2 separate regions of the Homo sapiens genome follow, and region 1 is linked to region 2. Evidence: fine-mapped expression QTL. Tissue or cell type: sigmoid colon. Region 2 holds a variant in brackets; the other region holds the start of a gene. All regions are shown on one strand. Distances are from middle to middle.

Region 1 (8,152 bases), 130 kb after region 2:
GAAGAGCTCAGTGTTCACTGACTCCCAGTGAAGAAGGCTAATGAGGCTGCAGGGTAGCTAAGTGGGGATGAGAGGGCTTCTAATGGAGGCCAACTATGTGTCATGCCAAAAGGAACACTGTGCTTATCACTTCCTTTCCTACACTATCCTGAGAAGATGTCAGTGAGGTTGGCGGAGGTAAAGCTCATGGGGCCTTGAAAAGGCCACATACTGAAGACTTTGGGGCTTATTCTAAACGCAACGCAAAGCACTGGAGGATTTTAATCAAGGGCATATGATCCTCCAGCGGCTGAGTAGAGAATACACTAGGAGAAGCTGGGGCTAGCTATAAAGCCATTGGAGCAGTCCAACAAAGGGACTAAAACCCAACTCTGAAGTAGGCCAGTCATTAAAAGCAGATGGTGCTGGGGTTGGGAATGGGGATTGACTACAGAAGGGTACAAGGCATCATTTTTGGATGATGAAAATGTTCTAAAACTGAATTGTGTGCTGATTGTACAATTCAGTAAGTTTATTAAAAATCACTGGACTGTCCACTTAAAACAGGTGAATTTTATGGTATGTAAATTATACCTTATAAAGCAGTTTGAAAAGAAAGCAGATGTGGGGAGTGTATTAGTCTGTTTTCATGCTGCTGATAAAGACATTCCCAAGACTGGGTAATTTATAAAGAAAAAAGAGGTTTAATGGACTCACAGTTTCACATGGCTGGGGAGGCCTCACGATCATGGAGGAAGAGCAAGGGAAGTCTTATGTGGCGGCAGGCAAGAGAGAGCTTGTGCAGGGGGAGCTCCCCTTTATAAAACCATCAGATCTTGTGAGGCTTATTCACTATCACGAGAACAGCACAGGAAAGACCTGCCCCCATGATTCAATTACCTTCCACTGGGTCCCTCCCGCAACACACGGGAATTGTGGGAGCTACAATCCAAGATGAGATTTGGGTGGGGATACAGCCAAACCATATCAAGGAAAGTGGGAAGTGTAAATTAGCTGCCTGGGTCCCAGAAGTGAATCATTAAACTTGAACACTGAATTTTCCTGTATCCTGAAAACTCCAAAGTATCTTAATTCCAGATGACTAGCGGTTGCTTTTAGCCATATTTTAATACATGGAAGCACTTCTGCATTCCCTCTTTTCCCCAGGCCTGGACCTCAATCCCCAGGTGTCTGCAACTCTTACTTGATATACACACAATGGATAATCAATAATGATTCAGCTAAGGTAAGGACAAAGCCTTTGCCACTTTTTACCTTTATTCTTTTTAGCCAGAGCAAATAGTGATATATTAATAGGAATACTCTTAAAAAATTGCTTTAAATGCCAGACTACCTCCTTCATATGCACCACTTAAATTTCTTTTCTTACCAAATTCCCTATTCAAATCCTTTCTTTAGGATTTACAGGATTCAGATAAATATACAGTGATCTCCACTACTGTACCCCACTATTGCCCCAGCTGAAGACCTGTAAACTATTCATCAGTACAGCATGTATGTGATTTATGAGCACGCTCATATGTATTAGTTCCCTACAGTTTCCATAACAAATTATCAAAACTCGGTAGCTTAAAACAATAGCAACTTATTCTTTCATAATTCTGGAGGCCAGGAATCCAAAATCAGTCTCATGGGGAAGAAAGCATGGTGTTGGCAGGGCTCCCTCCCTCCCTCTGGAGGCTCTGCAAGAGAATCAGTTCCTTGCCTCTTCTAGCTCTGCTGGTTGCCAGGCATTTGGTGACTTGTGGCCACATCACTCCAATATCTGCCTCTGTGGTCACATTGCCTTCTCTTCGGCCTATATCAAATCTGCTTCTCTCTCTCTCTTAGGACCTTTGCGTTTGCATTTAGGACCCACCTAGATAATTCACGATAATCTCTCCATTTCAAGCTACTTAATCACGTATGCAAAGGCACTTTTCCCTTATAAGGTAACATTTACAGGTTTCAGGGATTAGGACCTGACATATTTGAGTGGCCACTGCTCAGCCTACCATATAATTTGGGGCCATCTAGCTGGGGGACGGGTGGATCACAAGAGGCCCTGTTTAATAAATGGTGGAGGTCTAAAGTGGCTCACTCATAACATACTAGATAAAACTAAGTCCTCATTGTAAATGCACAACAACAGTAAGGGCTTTGCATACATACAAATAAATTGCTGTCCTCAATTTGTTTTGGGAGTATAATATTAACTCTATGGCATGGAAACCATTTCACCCACAACACAAGTAAGATAACCGCACTAAGATTAAAAGCAATGAGCGCAGTACAGAGATAGGAGGACCACATCTCTCTCAGCACTCCTGCACCCTTACCTGATGAGCTTCCGCACAGAGAAACAGTCCTACCTAGCATGTCTCTGGGATATGTGGAAGCCCTGGTCCTTTCCCCACACGCCCCCGCCATACCCGGCCACAACGCCTTAATCTCCTGCTGAGAGAAGCAGCAAGAACTGGTTGCCAGTCAAAAAACCTGGGCAACAGCCGACCTCACTTCTACTTTCCCCTGACGTTGGAGTTCAGCATGAGGCACAAACAAAACCTGGAGCAGCCTGAGTGGGGCCTGGAGCAGAGTGCTGTGGAAAAGGATGGAGACTTTCCAGAACTCATTGTGTTGCTGATTGATGCTGATAATGAGGGAAAGCTCTGACCCCCACATGTGGTTTAAAGACAGGGCTCAAGCTGAAAGGGCCCTTGCGCCGGCATTTAACACCATTCCGTCTTGGATGCGAGGCTGTCCTCTCTACCACCAAGTCTTCCCCATCTCCTCCCCCTGTTCGCGGCAGCGCGGTAGACACAGAGTCAGCAGTCACGTTGGGGCAGGTTACTCGGTGATTCTCTTCCCCACAAATCAAATCAGTTTGCGCAGGCCCCTGTGTTCTTCAAGGTCCAGGTTTCAGCGCCACCGTCCCCAGGGGTCTTGCAATCCCCTAAAACAACAGCAGCTCATTCCAGTAAAGAAACAATTTATTGGGCATCTTCCATGTGCAGAACAAACACGAGGCACCGGAAGATTCCAGAAATGAACACGAGTCGCTCCGGGTCCTCAGAAGAACCCCACTCCCACCCCACCATCCTCGTCTCCCGGGCCGCGCCCCGCTTGTACCTGCAACCAACACCTAATCCTAAGACACCGGCCACATCTCCGCGGGGCGCCGGCGGGCGCAGCGGCCCCACCTACGTCGACCTGGCGGCTGGGACGGGGCGGCTCCCCACTCTTCGCCCCTAGGCCCCGCGGAGGCTGCGGGGCGGCTCCTCCTCCTCGGCTGCGGCGCCGGAAGCTGCCCGCGCCCGTCACTCCTCGCGGCTGTGGCGCTCGGGGCGCTGCCCAGTCCGCGCGAGCCGCGTGGGTGACGGTTAGGACGCTCTGCGAGGCTTCGTAGTTGGGGGAGGGGAGGAGGGGGGTGCTCGGCAGCTGCCCGGCGGGGACCCCTCCCGCGCCTGCGACTCCGCCCGCCGGACGCCGTCGCTGGGGCATCCGAGCGTCGAAGTCCCCACCACCGCCCGGGCGCCCTAAGGAGTGGGGGTGTACCCAGCCCGGAGTCAAATCCTGGAGCCCTGCCCCAGAAACTACCCTGGGTTCGGACCTGCACCCGGCGCCCTCTGCCGCTTCTCCCACAGCCTCCTAACTGGTCTCCGGCCCTACTCTTGCCCCCACCCGAGCGCCTCGGGCCACTCTCGTAGCTGTCCCCACCGTGGTCTTCCCAGATAACTCACTGACCCGCACCAGTCTGAGCTCTTACCTGCCAAAGAGTCAAGCCCAATCTGGAGTTGCCCGCCGGGCCTCCTACTCTGACACCCCCACCCGGCCCCACCTCACCCCCCCCTCCCATTCCCACTCCTGGCATTCCCATTTGACCATTTCAAGTTAACAGAATTCACATTTTGCAGCTCTGTTTTCTCTGTCCCCGAATGTTCAAGTTCAAACGTGTTCTCGGCATAGCTGACCCTTCTGCCTCTGGAGACTTGTTCCCTCCGCTGTGCTACAGTTACCCTCTGTCATTATCTCTAATATAGAATTTATCAGATTTTGCTGCCCAAATTATCGATCAAATGGAACGCATCCAGAAAGGCCAGTGTCTGATAGATGCAGCCTGAGGCATTTAATTCTGCTAGCAATCACATTGTGCAGACACCTACAGCAAATAACTTTTTATGTATAAGTTGATTAGAAATATTAGTAAGTCTTACATTAAATAATGTAGCTACAAATTTTAATAAAAATAGATTAAATGCCATTAAAGATTGTTTATCATATCTTTGTAGTTAATCCATTTATTGGCTTATAGAGATCTAGGATTAGCTATAGAATCGAGCATTTTTAACAGGAAGTGAAACCATAAGTATTACATAGAAAGGTAAATAATTTAGGTCTTGTGGTTGGACAAAAAGCAATTTCTAATTTTTTCTTTTTTCTATCAAAACATGAGTGTTCAATGACATAAAAATTTTCCATACCTAATACATGGTTTCCATTGGTGTCTCATTTTGTGCTTGTACCCTGGACACACACAAAAAGGTTTTTTTCTTTTCAACGTCTTTAATTAAAAGGTGTGTTAATTAGTGTAGCATGAAATTATCTACACCCACATATATGTACGAAAAGTTATGTGCCCCTGATTTTACTATAAAATTCATCACATTTTGAAGTGTCCTGCGGTTTTACAACATTTTTTAAATATTGTATTAAAAACAGCTTCTTAGCTTTTTAAATAAAGAATTAAAAGATCAAGAAAGGGATCCAAAGTCCTTTTCCATTCATTCATTCATTCCATCCATATTTATAGGGCACCTACAACATGCTATGTGTAGGTTGTGACAATAAAGCTGGGGCCCTCTCCCTCTCCCTCTCCCCCTCCCCCTCCCCCTCCTTTTCCCTCTCCAAGGTCTCCCTCTCCCTCTCTTTCCACGGTCTCCCTCTGATGCCCAGCCGAAGCTGGACTGTACTGCTGCCATGTCGGCTCTCTGCAACCTCCCTGCCTGATTCTCCTGCCTCAGCCTGCGGAGTGCCTGCCATTGCAGGCGCGCGCCGCCACGCCTGACTGGTTTTCGTATTTTTCTGGTGGAGACGGGGTTTCGCTGTGCTGGCCGGGCTGGTCTCCAGCTCCTAACCGCGAGTGATCCGCCAGCCTCGGCCTCCGGAGGTGCCGGGATTGCAGACGGTGTCTGGTTCACTCAGTGCTCAATGGTGCCCAGGCTGGAGTGCAGTGGCGTGATCTCGGCTCGCTACAACCTCCACCTCCCAGCCGCCTGCCTTGGCCTCCCAAAGTGCGGAGAGTGCTGCCTCTGCCCGGCCGCCACCCCGTCTGGGAAGTGAGGAGCGTCTCTGCCTGGCCGCCTATCTTCTGGGATGTGAGGAGCCCCTCTGCCTGGCTGCCCAGTCTGGAAAGTGAGGAGTGCCTCTTCCCGGCCGCCATCCCATCTAGGAAGCGAGGAGCGTCTCTGCCCGGCCGCTCATCGTCTGAGATGTGGGGAGCGCCTTTGCCCCGCCGCCCCGTCTGCGGTGTGAGGAGCGCCTCTGCCCGGCCGCGACCCCGTCTGGGAGGTGAGGAGCATCTCTGCCCAGCTGCCCCGTCTGAGAAGTGAGGAGACCCTCTGCCTGGCAACTGTCCCGTCTGAGAAGTGAGGAGCCCCTCCGCCTGGCAGCCGCCCCATCTGAGAAGTGAGGAGCCCCTCCGCCCGGCAGCCACCCCGTCTGGGAAGTGAGGAGCGTCTCCGCCCGGCAGCCACCCCGTCCGGGAGGGAGGTGGGGGTCAGCCCCTCTGCCCGGCCAGCCGCCCCATCCGGGAGGGAGGTGGGGGGGTCAGCCCCCCGCCCGGCCAGCCACCCCATCCGGGAGGTGAGGGGCGCCTCTGCCCGGCCGCCCCTACTGGGAAGTGAGGAGCCCCTCTGCCTGGCCACCACCCCGTCTGGGAGGTGTACCCAACAGCTCATTGAGAACGGGCCATGATGACAATGGTGGTTTTGTGGAATAGAAAGGGGGGAAAGGTGGGGAAAAGATTGAGAAATCGGATGGTTGCCGTGTCTGTGTGGAAAGAAGTAGACATGGGAGACTTTTCATTTTGTTCTGTACTAAGAAAAATTCTTCTGCCTTGGGATCCTGTTGAACTGTGACCTTACCCCCAAACCTGTGCTCTCTGAAACATGTGCTGTGTCCACTCAGGGTTAAATGGATTAAGGGCGGTGCAAGATGTGCTTTGTTAAACAGATGCTTGAAGGCAGCATGCTCGTTAAGAGTCACCACCACTCCCTAATCTCAAGTACCCAGGGACACAAACACTGCGGAAGGCCGCAGGGTCCTCTGCCTAGGAAAGCCAGAGACCTTTGTTCACTTGTTTCTTTGTTCACTTGGTTATCTGCTGACCTTCCCTCCACTATTGTCCGATGACCCTGCCAAATCCCCCTCTGCGAGAAACACCCAAGAATGATCAATTAAAAAAAAAAAGATCGAAAAAAAAAAAAAAAAAAGAAAGCTGGGAACAAATACAGTCCCTACCCTAGTAGTGCTTACATTCTTGTAGAGGAAGATGAGCAATGCACAAATAGACAAGTTCAAATATGCCAGATGGGGATACGTGTTGTGGAGACAGAGGTAGGAGGTTAGGGAGTGTGGGGCTGCTGTTTCATAGTGAGGTCTTGAAAAGGCCTCATTGATAAAGTGACATTCAAAAGAGACTTGTAGGGCTGGGGGAAGGGATCTGTGTGGTTATTGTGGGACAGAGCTTTTCAGGCATTTGGTTGGTGTGTTTGAAAAAACCCAGAGGCTAGTGAGGACTGAGCAGAGTGGATGAACAAGCAGAGGTTGGGGCGTTGTGGTCATTTAGGGCCCAAGTCACCGAGAGCTCTTTAGTAAGAGTCCATGCATAGGTCCAAGGTTGTTGTGTCTCCCTTCACTGGTTCTTACTCTGCACTAGACCCTGTGCTGGGTACTGGGGAGATGCAAAGAAGCTCCAGTTTCTGCCCTCAAGGAACCTGTGTCCCTCCTAATGTCAATCCAAATGGTGGCTGGGGTTTGTGAGGATGCAGTTAAGACTCAGGAACATGGAACCCAGGCCTGATCTGAGCTTTGGCACTAGCTTGGGCAAGCCATTTGAACTTACAAAGCGTTAGTATTTTCATCTGCAAAATGTGAGATGTAGAAATATCAGAAGGGGCTTTTCTAACTGAAGAAAAAAAAAAAACAAGAAAAAGCCCTATGATTTTATAAAATCAAAGCATAGAACTTTATCTTAATACAAAAACTTTTGTTAAAATTGTGTCAGAAAAGTACTTCAGACATAATATACATAATGCATATACAGGGTCACTTAAAATTTAATTCACAATTTGCTAAGTTCAAAAAAAGTCTTGGTTCAGCCAACACAACGAGCTTTGTAAACAGGTGGTACTTAGGAAAAACCACATATTTTAATTTAGCATATGGTGTAGATTATATGAAATTACTTTAACCATTGTGTTTCCTTTATGATCTAGACCTTGAAACTTTTCTTTGGCCAAAGATCTTCAAAACTAAATACAGTGTTAAAGCAGAGTTACAGAGCAGCCTGGATTAGGGGGATAGATATTTTCCTTTCCTGACTATGGTTTAAAACTTTCTGTTGTACATTTTATTGGGCAACGACTTTTCCCCAGTGCCCAGTACAGAGCTGGACATATAGAAGTCATCAATATATATTGTGGTGGAGGGGATAAGTGGCAAGTCATCTCTAATACATAGTATTAGTATGCAAGTACATAGAGCATAAAATATTAAAAGACCATGTAGTTAATGTTCTGACATTCTTCTCTCCACCAGCGACACAAGGAGAGAAATATATCTAATTAGAAAGCTTGAGTTCAATAAACAAATATTTATTGAGCACCAACTGAGTATCAGGAACATCAGTGAACAAAACGGACCCAAACCCTGCCCTCATGGAACTTACGTTTCAGTGGTGGGGGACGGATCATAAATAATCACCGTGACAAAATTAATGCACTAGAAGGTGGTAAATGCCATGGGGACAAAGGAAGCAGGGAAGGAGAAGAGGAAGTGTGGGATGGATTGTGACTGAGTCCAAACTTGTTCTTCTTGCCACATCACGTCAATAAGTCAAGAGACAAGGAGGTGGAGGAAGGAAAGCGACTTTATTTTGGGGAGCCAGGAAACC
Region 2 (8,152 bases):
TTGATGATTCATATAGTTCTCTCCTTTTCTTGTTCTTCAGGGATCATGAAGAGTCCATACAATGACCAGGTGGCAGTCTCAGATTCTAATTCAATGGAACTATTATTTTTTTTCTACTGATAGACACCTTGTCTCAAGCTTTTAAATCACCAGAGCCCAGTTCATGGGGCTAAGAAGTAACAGTTTTGCAAGTGGTTCTGAAGGAGGTGCTCCTCCTGATGCTACACCCATGTATGCTGAATATGGGAAAAACAGCATATATTGGTTGCTGGTGCAGAATAAATAATGAATGTTGGTGTGGGCAGAAATTTGTTAGGCAGGGTCAGCAAATCCCAATCCAGAATAAGTTACTATTCCAGTAAAGATAAATTACTGCCCCTTTCATGATAATGGAAGAGGTCTGGGACATTCTTTGAACCCACTCATTCAACGACCATTATGACCTCCTTCTAGCTTGCCTTCCTACTGTAGAGGCTGGAAAACTAATGGCTGCATTTCCCAAACTCTCTTAATGTTTCAACTCATTAAAGTGCCCACATGTTTGGAAGTCCAAGGGAGCACCAAGGGGAGAGCTGATCCTCTGCAAGCCAGTCTGGCTTTCAGGTGCTGAGCAGCAGAGGCTACGGGAAGTGGTAGTCTGGAGGGAATCCACTTCTTTCCCCAGGCACATTGTTCCTGGCTTTGTTCCATTCAAACCTAATTCACATCAGGGACTTTAGTTTTATTTCCTGGACAAATAAATATTTAACAGAAGCAGTGGCCAGATCAGGTTTGATGAGGGAAATCCAAGTTGCTAAACCCCCGTGTAGCCTGTGATTCTGCTACTATGCCTACTTCGCTCATTGGGCAACACTGGAGTGCCTGCAGAAAGGAGAGAGTTGGCATGCAGGAGCCAGGTCAACCTCTTCTCTTGACTATTGAGCACTTCCTCTCCAGTGGGGGCCTTTGGGTGGCATTCACAAAGAACCAAATATCCTCATACTCTGGATTCATTCTCAGAGATCCCATAGATACCTCTTCCTCTGAACATCTTTGTCACCAGACTTGCATTCTTGATCCTTCCATGTCTTGGCTGCTGAGCTACACCGTCAGCTAATGACCATTAACTGGTGATATCTGTGCCTCATACCATTTCTCCTTTCAGACAAAGTGGTCAGCAAGATAAAATGCTTAAAATTCTGCCTTCTGGAAGATTCCTCTTTGTTGATCTTCAGGGTCACCCTCAAGTTGGCCTATAATGTTGCTGTAGTCTACTTGTGGCTGGTGCTGTCATATTGTGCTGGTTGCTGTCTAGTCAGTTGGACTTAGAGAACATACCATGAAGTCAGAGGTGTAGGCTGAGGAAAAAATGGTAATGTGGTAGGAGTGGGAACACCATGCAATTTGTTGTGTCTTCAATTTCTGCTCAAGCCCAATCTTATGTAGGAAACTTTCACTTGATCATAAGAAGCAATACAATTTGGTAATTTAATATGTGTACTTTGAAGCCAGGGGGCCTGTGTTCTAACCAAGTCCTGCCACTTATTAGATATATGACTATGGTCAAATTGCTTTTATCCTCTCTCTGCTTCAATTTTCTCATCTAAAATAGGGATGATTACAATAACAGTACTATTTCCCAGAAATGTGGTGAGGATTAAAGGAAATGTTGCAAGTAAAGTACTTAGAGCAGAGCTTGGCACACTGTGCACACACACTAAATGTTAGCTGACTTTATGGCGTGGTGAATCAGATAGTCCCCAGCTTATGATGAGTGCTAGCCATGAGATTAGGCTGCTGTATTTACCAGTGCTCAGCAACAAGCCAAAATCTGTTTCTCAAAAGGAGAAAAGTTACATGCCACAGAATCCGTGGCTTGGCTGCAAAACTCTCAGAGCCTGTGCTGGATGTTCCAAAGCTCCATTCAGCAGCCCTGTCTGCCACAGGCATTTCAATAACATTGGATCCACTGGATCAGAAGACAGAGCTTCCTGGACCAGTGAGAAAGCATACTCTTGCTTCAGGCTGCACTCAAAATTGGCAACCTCTCAGATTATTAAAAAAACTAGCTGAAACAGCATGTCTAAATCTGGTCTCCAAAATTCAAAGACACACCATTATAGAGTATTTCCAACACCCAGTTATAATACATATAAATAATCTGAGCAGCATAGATAATAATAAAAAGCTGTCAACTAGGAAGTGATGAGTTTGTAATTATCTTTGTTTTTCACATCATTTATTTAACTGTAAGTATATATAATTTGTTTTAATAATGGTTGTGTTTAGCAATCAGCTCACTAAATTCTTGAAAATTTGTCAGTTGACCTTTGTGAGTTGGTACAACCTGTCTCTAGCACCTTATTGACTATAGAATTCAAGGCAATGAGGGATGTTAGGAGCAAAGAATGAAGAGAATTGTTTTCCCCTACCTCCAGTAAGGTTACTCCCACAAAGAATAACATTACAGAGTCTTCATGAAAGATGGAAAAAGCCTCATCATGAAGGGAGATTTTCTCTGACGAGGAAGGCTGCATTAATTCAGGTGTGCCAAGAAGCAATGGCAAGATGGGAATAGATGTTCTTGAGCTTTACTGAAGGAAGGAATGGGAAAAGATAGAGAGAGCTTTAGACTGTGATGCCTGTCTGATATCTGTGGAAGGAATAAGGGAAGGAAAGAAGATTGGTGTAAGAAGAATCTTGGACTGTAGCACAATTCAAATAAAGGTTTCGCCAGTCCAGCAGGAAGTCCTCAAGTTGAAGTTGCCTAGAGGAGGAGTTTCACTTCTTGCCAGAATGGGACTACCTTGGTGCTTCTGGCATGCTCAGTCATTGGTTAGGGGTAGCCCATGAGAAGCATGGCCTCAGTGTGAGGGTGGAGGATCCAGGGAGGCAGCAATTTGGTCCACCAGCCAATGATGCTCTCTGCAGCAGATGATCTGAGTAGCATATTTTCATAGGGTTGGGAGTTTAGGGTACTTGGAGCCCACCGTATCTTCCCATATGTTCCCATTTCAGGATTCAGGGTCTCACTTTTTCCAAACAATGTTCTAGCTTCACATAAGGTATCCTAAAAACCTGTGAATTCAAATGATGTCTTAACTTAGCAAACTAAACAGTCAATTATCTCTCTCTCTCCCAGTTCAACAGTTTCAAGACATATTTCTTTAGAAAATTCCAAAGAGCCCCTGATTTGGGGATTTGTGTTTGTTTTAAAATATGTCCACAAATTGGCCAGGCTGGTGGCTCACACCTGTAATCCCAGCACTTTGGTGTGCCAAAGGCGGGTGGATCATGAGGTCAGGCGATCAAGACCATCCTGGCTAACACGGTGAAACTCCATCTCTACTAAAAAATACAAAAAATTAGCTGGGCATGGTGGCAGGCAACTGTAGTCCCAGCTACTCGGGAGGCTGAGGCAGGAGAATGTCCTGAACCCAGGAGGCAGAGCTTGCAGTGAGCCGAGATAACACCACTGCACTCCAGCCTGGGCGACAGAGCAAGACTCTGTTTCAAAAAAAAAAAAAAAAGTCCACAAATTATTTGATACTTTTTCAAAATGTGGTGTCTAATTCCCTCCACTCAAGTGTAGTTAGTGACTGTAGTTAGTGGGCTGTACTTAGCGACTTGCTTCTAATGAAGACAATGTGGGAAAGGTGATGATGCCTGATTTCTGAGTCCCAATCACATCAGGTGAAATTGTGGCTTCCTTCTTGTTCTCACTTGGATCATCTGCTCTGGGAGTGTCTAGCTGCCATGTTGTGAGGACACTAAAGTTGTCTATGGAGAGGCCCACATAGCAAGGAACTAAAGCCTTCTTCTAGCAGCCATGGGGCAAGCCATCTAGGAAGTGGATCCTCCAGTCCCTAGTAAGTCTTCAGATGAGACTGCAACCCCTGCTGACATCCTGACTGTAGTCTTACGGGAGGTCCTGAGCCAGAACCACAAAGTTGCTCTTGAATTCTTGAATCACAAAAACCACTATAATGTTTGTTGTTTTAAGCCATTAAGCTTAAGATTTATTTGTTAAGCAGTAATAGGTAACTAATATAGATTTTGTTACCTGGAAGTGGAGTGCTGCTATAACAAGAACCTAAAGTGTGGGAGGGAGAAGAACTGGGTAGTGGGGTGGAAGCTGGAAAATTTTGAGAAGACTGTTAGTAAAAGCTTCAAGGGCCTTAAAAACACTGTTAGTAGAAGCCTTTGAGGAGGTGACAGCTTGTAGGAAAATGAGGTAATGTTATTGGAAAGTGGGAGAAACAGTCTCCTTGTTATGAAATAGCAAAAAGTTTAGCCCACATGGAATGTAGAAAAGGCAGCTGATGAGCTGGATGATCTAACGAAGGAGATTTTCATACAGAATGTTGAAGATACTGCCTGGTTTTCATTTGCTGCTTACAGCAAAATGCAAGAAGAAATAGATAAGCTAAAGCAGGACAGCTTAAAAAGAGGAACCAGGATTTTATGGTTTCGAAATGTCTAGCCTCTTGGATAGCAGATAATGTTTAAATTAAGGAATGATATGGGGCAAAGACAAAATCCAGGACATTGCCAGGAAAACATGGTCTAAAGAAGACTCCAAGGATGTAAGGATGTAACTGTTAAATCCTTTGTTAAGACCTCAGAAAGATAAAAGGTGTTGCCTCAGCGTACTGTTCAACTAGACAAAAGGCTCCCTAAAATTTTCTTAGGTGTGCTACAGTTTCTTTTGATC[A/G]AACAAATAAAGCTTCTAAGAAGCTGAAGATGTTGTTCTTCACCAGAAGCCCATGGTAGAGAAGGGCTTATCTTGAATTGATTTGTAGATTTGGCTTTTGAAAAATGGCATGGACCCAATAAGAGTCACAGGAAATCTGTAAAGTTTTTCAAAGAATTGTATTGGAATAAAAACTGCCAGCTTGGACTAAAAGGGACAAAGACAGTATGAAATGAAAAGAGGCCTCTGGATCTCCATAGTTCTACTGGCAGAAAGCAGACTGAGAGAACTTCTCAGCTACACATATGTGCTTCCATTATAGAACAGATGACTCAGAGGACATAACCAAGAAAGTGGAAACAAAGGCCATGCAGAATTATTCCTAGTTGAACAAAGTTCTAATTGAGGACCTTCTACAATTTCCTTGGCTGCTTTACAGAATTGCCATGGAGCAGTGACTCCTGTATGCCTCTATTTTTCTCCTATTTTTGGAATATGATTGTATATGGTGATTATATTGTGTCTGTTCTACTATTATATGTTGGGTGATGTTACAGAGGGTGGGGGTGGGAGGGATAGGCATATACCTTTCTGTCTTCAGATTGAAAGGAAATGCATTAGAATAATTGTACTTAGGAAGTACATCTAAGCAGTTTCATCTGTACCTGGGCCTGATTCAGATTCTAACATTCTGGATTCCAAACTGATGCTGTAAAGGGGTTATGGGAGGATTTTGTAAGGGTGGGGCTGTGGGGGTAAGTATATTTTACATATGAAAAGAATGTAAGTAATTTGTGGCTAGAGGACAGATTGGTCTTGTCTTAAAATATGTTCACAAATTCTGTGATACTCTTTCCTTCAAAAGATGAAGCTTGATTCTGCTTTTCTTGAGTGTGGGCTGTGCTTAGTGGCTTATTTCTAAAGAATAGAATGTAGCAGAAGTAGCGATGTGTGATTCCAAAACTAGACTGTAAAAGGCATTGTGTTCCCTCTTTGCTTTCCCTGAGATCACATGCTCTGGTGCAGATTTTCTCAGCCCAGGCAATATTGATGTTTTGGATCGAATTTTTCTTATTATTCTTTGTTGTGAGGGACTGTTCTGTGCTTTGTAGAATATTTAGTATCACCTCTGGCCTCTACTCACCCAAAATTCCCAGAAGTTGAATTGCTATGTCAAAGGATATATGTACATGCAGCTACACACACACACACACACACACACACACACACACACTCACATAGTTGTTTATTCTGTCTTGTTCTTTAAGGTTTTTGGATATAGAGTGCTAAGTTGCCTCCAAAAAGGTTGAATTTTTTCCCTATTAAAATATATTGTTTATATTTGAATTTATTTTTATCATTGGTGAACATTTTTAAAAATGAACATTTAAAAATGAATTTGGTCTATTGCATTTCTTTGTGACTTAGCTCAATTTTCTCCTGGGGCATGAGCAATGGTGTGCTCACAGGGCCTGCTTTCACTGTGGGCAGAATAGGCAGTATTACACATTCTGGTTAGAAGAGGTGGGGAAGCCCTGCTTTCCCCCATCACCCTCCAAGGTAGGTGTGCAGGGTATAAAATTCTTACATTAGAAATGCATTATTTGCCCACTTTTTAATGGGATTATTAGTTCTTTTGCTGTTGAGTTACTTGTATATTTTGGATATTTGTCCCTTGTTGGATGAATAGTTTACAAATACATAATGAAATCTAAGTTGGCTATAGAATGAAATCTTGTCATTTGCAACAACATAGATGAAACTGGAGGATATTATATTACGTGAAATAAGCCAAGCACAGGAAGACAAATATTGCATGTTCTCATTCATATCTGGGAGCTAAAAAAGTTGACCTCGTGGAGGTAGAGGGCAAAATGATAGTTACCAGAGGCAGGGAAGGGTGTGTAGGGGGTGGGGGAGGAATAAAGAGAGAGGTTGGTTGGTTAATACAGACAGTTAGATAGAAGGAATTAATTGTAATATTTGACGCCAGAGTAACAAAGTACTATATATTTCAAAATACCTAGAAGAGAGGACTTGAAATGTTCCCAACACATAGAATGATGGATACTCTAAATACCCTGACTTGATCATTACACATTCTGTGCATGTAACAAATACCACATGTACCCCATAAAAATGTACAAATATGACATATCAATAAAAAAATGCATTATTTTAGTTTGTCCTCCCTCTAAACTGATTTTAAAATATCAAACAAGTTCACTGTAAGGTACTGGTGACACATCAACTTTCTTTTTGACAAATGTTCACAGATAACAATATTTACAGTTCCGTGGTTGGGTGGATGGGTGGAATCAGAAAGCAGTTAAAGAATAATACTGAGGCCAGGTGCAGTGGCTCACACCTGTAATCCCAGCACTTTGGGAGGCTGAGGCGGGCGGGTCACAAGGTCAGGAGTTTGAGACCAGCCTGACCAACATGGTGAAACCCCGTCTCTACTAAAAATACAAAAATTAGCCAGGTGTGGTGGCACATGCCTGTAATCCCAGCTACTCAGGAGGCTGAAGCAGGAGAATCACTTGAACCCAGAAGGCGGAGGTTGCAGTGAGCCGAGATTGTGCCAACCGCACTCCAGTGTGGGCAACAGAGTGAGACTTTGTCTCACAAAAAAAAAAAAAAAAAGAATAATACCAAAAAGAGGAAGAAGACAAGAAACGAGATAAAGGGACACCCCAAACTTTGCCCTCATGGTGGCTTTGCTAGATCTGTCCTGGTCTAATCTACCTCATTCTCTCCCAAGAAGATAACTGTCAATGCTTTTAAAAAAATCTCTTGGACATTTACAGCCTATATTTTGGTGGTACATGCTAGTGCTTGACCATTCTTGATATTCATTTATTCATTCACTCAATAAATACATATTTTGAGCCTCTACCGTGTAGGACACTAGGCACCCTATAGGTCACTGGGAGAAAACTATAAATTCCCTGCCCTTGTGAGCTTACAATCCAGTGAGGGAAACACACCTTTAATCAAAGAAGATAATATGGAGAGTGACATGGGCAATTAATGGGGTGCAGGGATGGAGAACAGCAGGGGGCAGGCCTGCGGAAGTGAGGGCAAGGGCCAACTTTGGTTGGGGAGGATCTCTCTGAGGAGAAATTTGGCTTACATTCTCTCTAGTAACAGTGTGCACCTGGTGGGAATTGGGAGTCTTTCACTCATGATTACAATTATTTGAATTGTATCTAATTGTGTGAGGAGCTGGAGTGCATGGCGTGGTCCGGCAGGTCTGACTGGAGGAAGCAGAGATTGCCAATGGCACCCATGGGCTCTTCCCTTTTCTGTGTGCCGGGCCCGCTGCCCCTGCCCTGGACTCTCCCTGACTCCACCCTTCAAAACTTGCCTGTTCTCCTCTTCCTTCCTCCCTCATATTTCCCTCCATTCTTCCTCACTTCCTCTTTAAGCCTGCAAGGTTTGAGTTCACCTTACTCCTTAGTCTCTTTGCTACTTACA

The links. PIP is the estimated chance that this variant, and not a neighbour inherited with it, causes the effect.
Region 1: CCDC158 starts here. The variant in region 2 is fine-mapped to the expression of CCDC158 in sigmoid colon (GTEx, PIP above 0.99).

Annotation. Positions count from the first base shown.
Region 1 is chr4:76,417,857-76,426,008 of GRCh38, forward strand. It overlaps CCDC158 (coiled-coil domain containing 158), which reads right to left and starts at 3,285. Exons shown (of 25, transcript NM_001394954.1): 1 at 3,109-3,285.
Region 2 is chr4:76,292,174-76,300,325 of GRCh38, forward strand. The region is part of intron 6 of FAM47E-STBD1 (FAM47E-STBD1 readthrough); the gene reads left to right. Among named protein-coding and RNA genes, the nearest start is that of STBD1, 10 kb to the right of the region's middle. The variant A/G (reference allele first, on the strand shown) is at 4,694.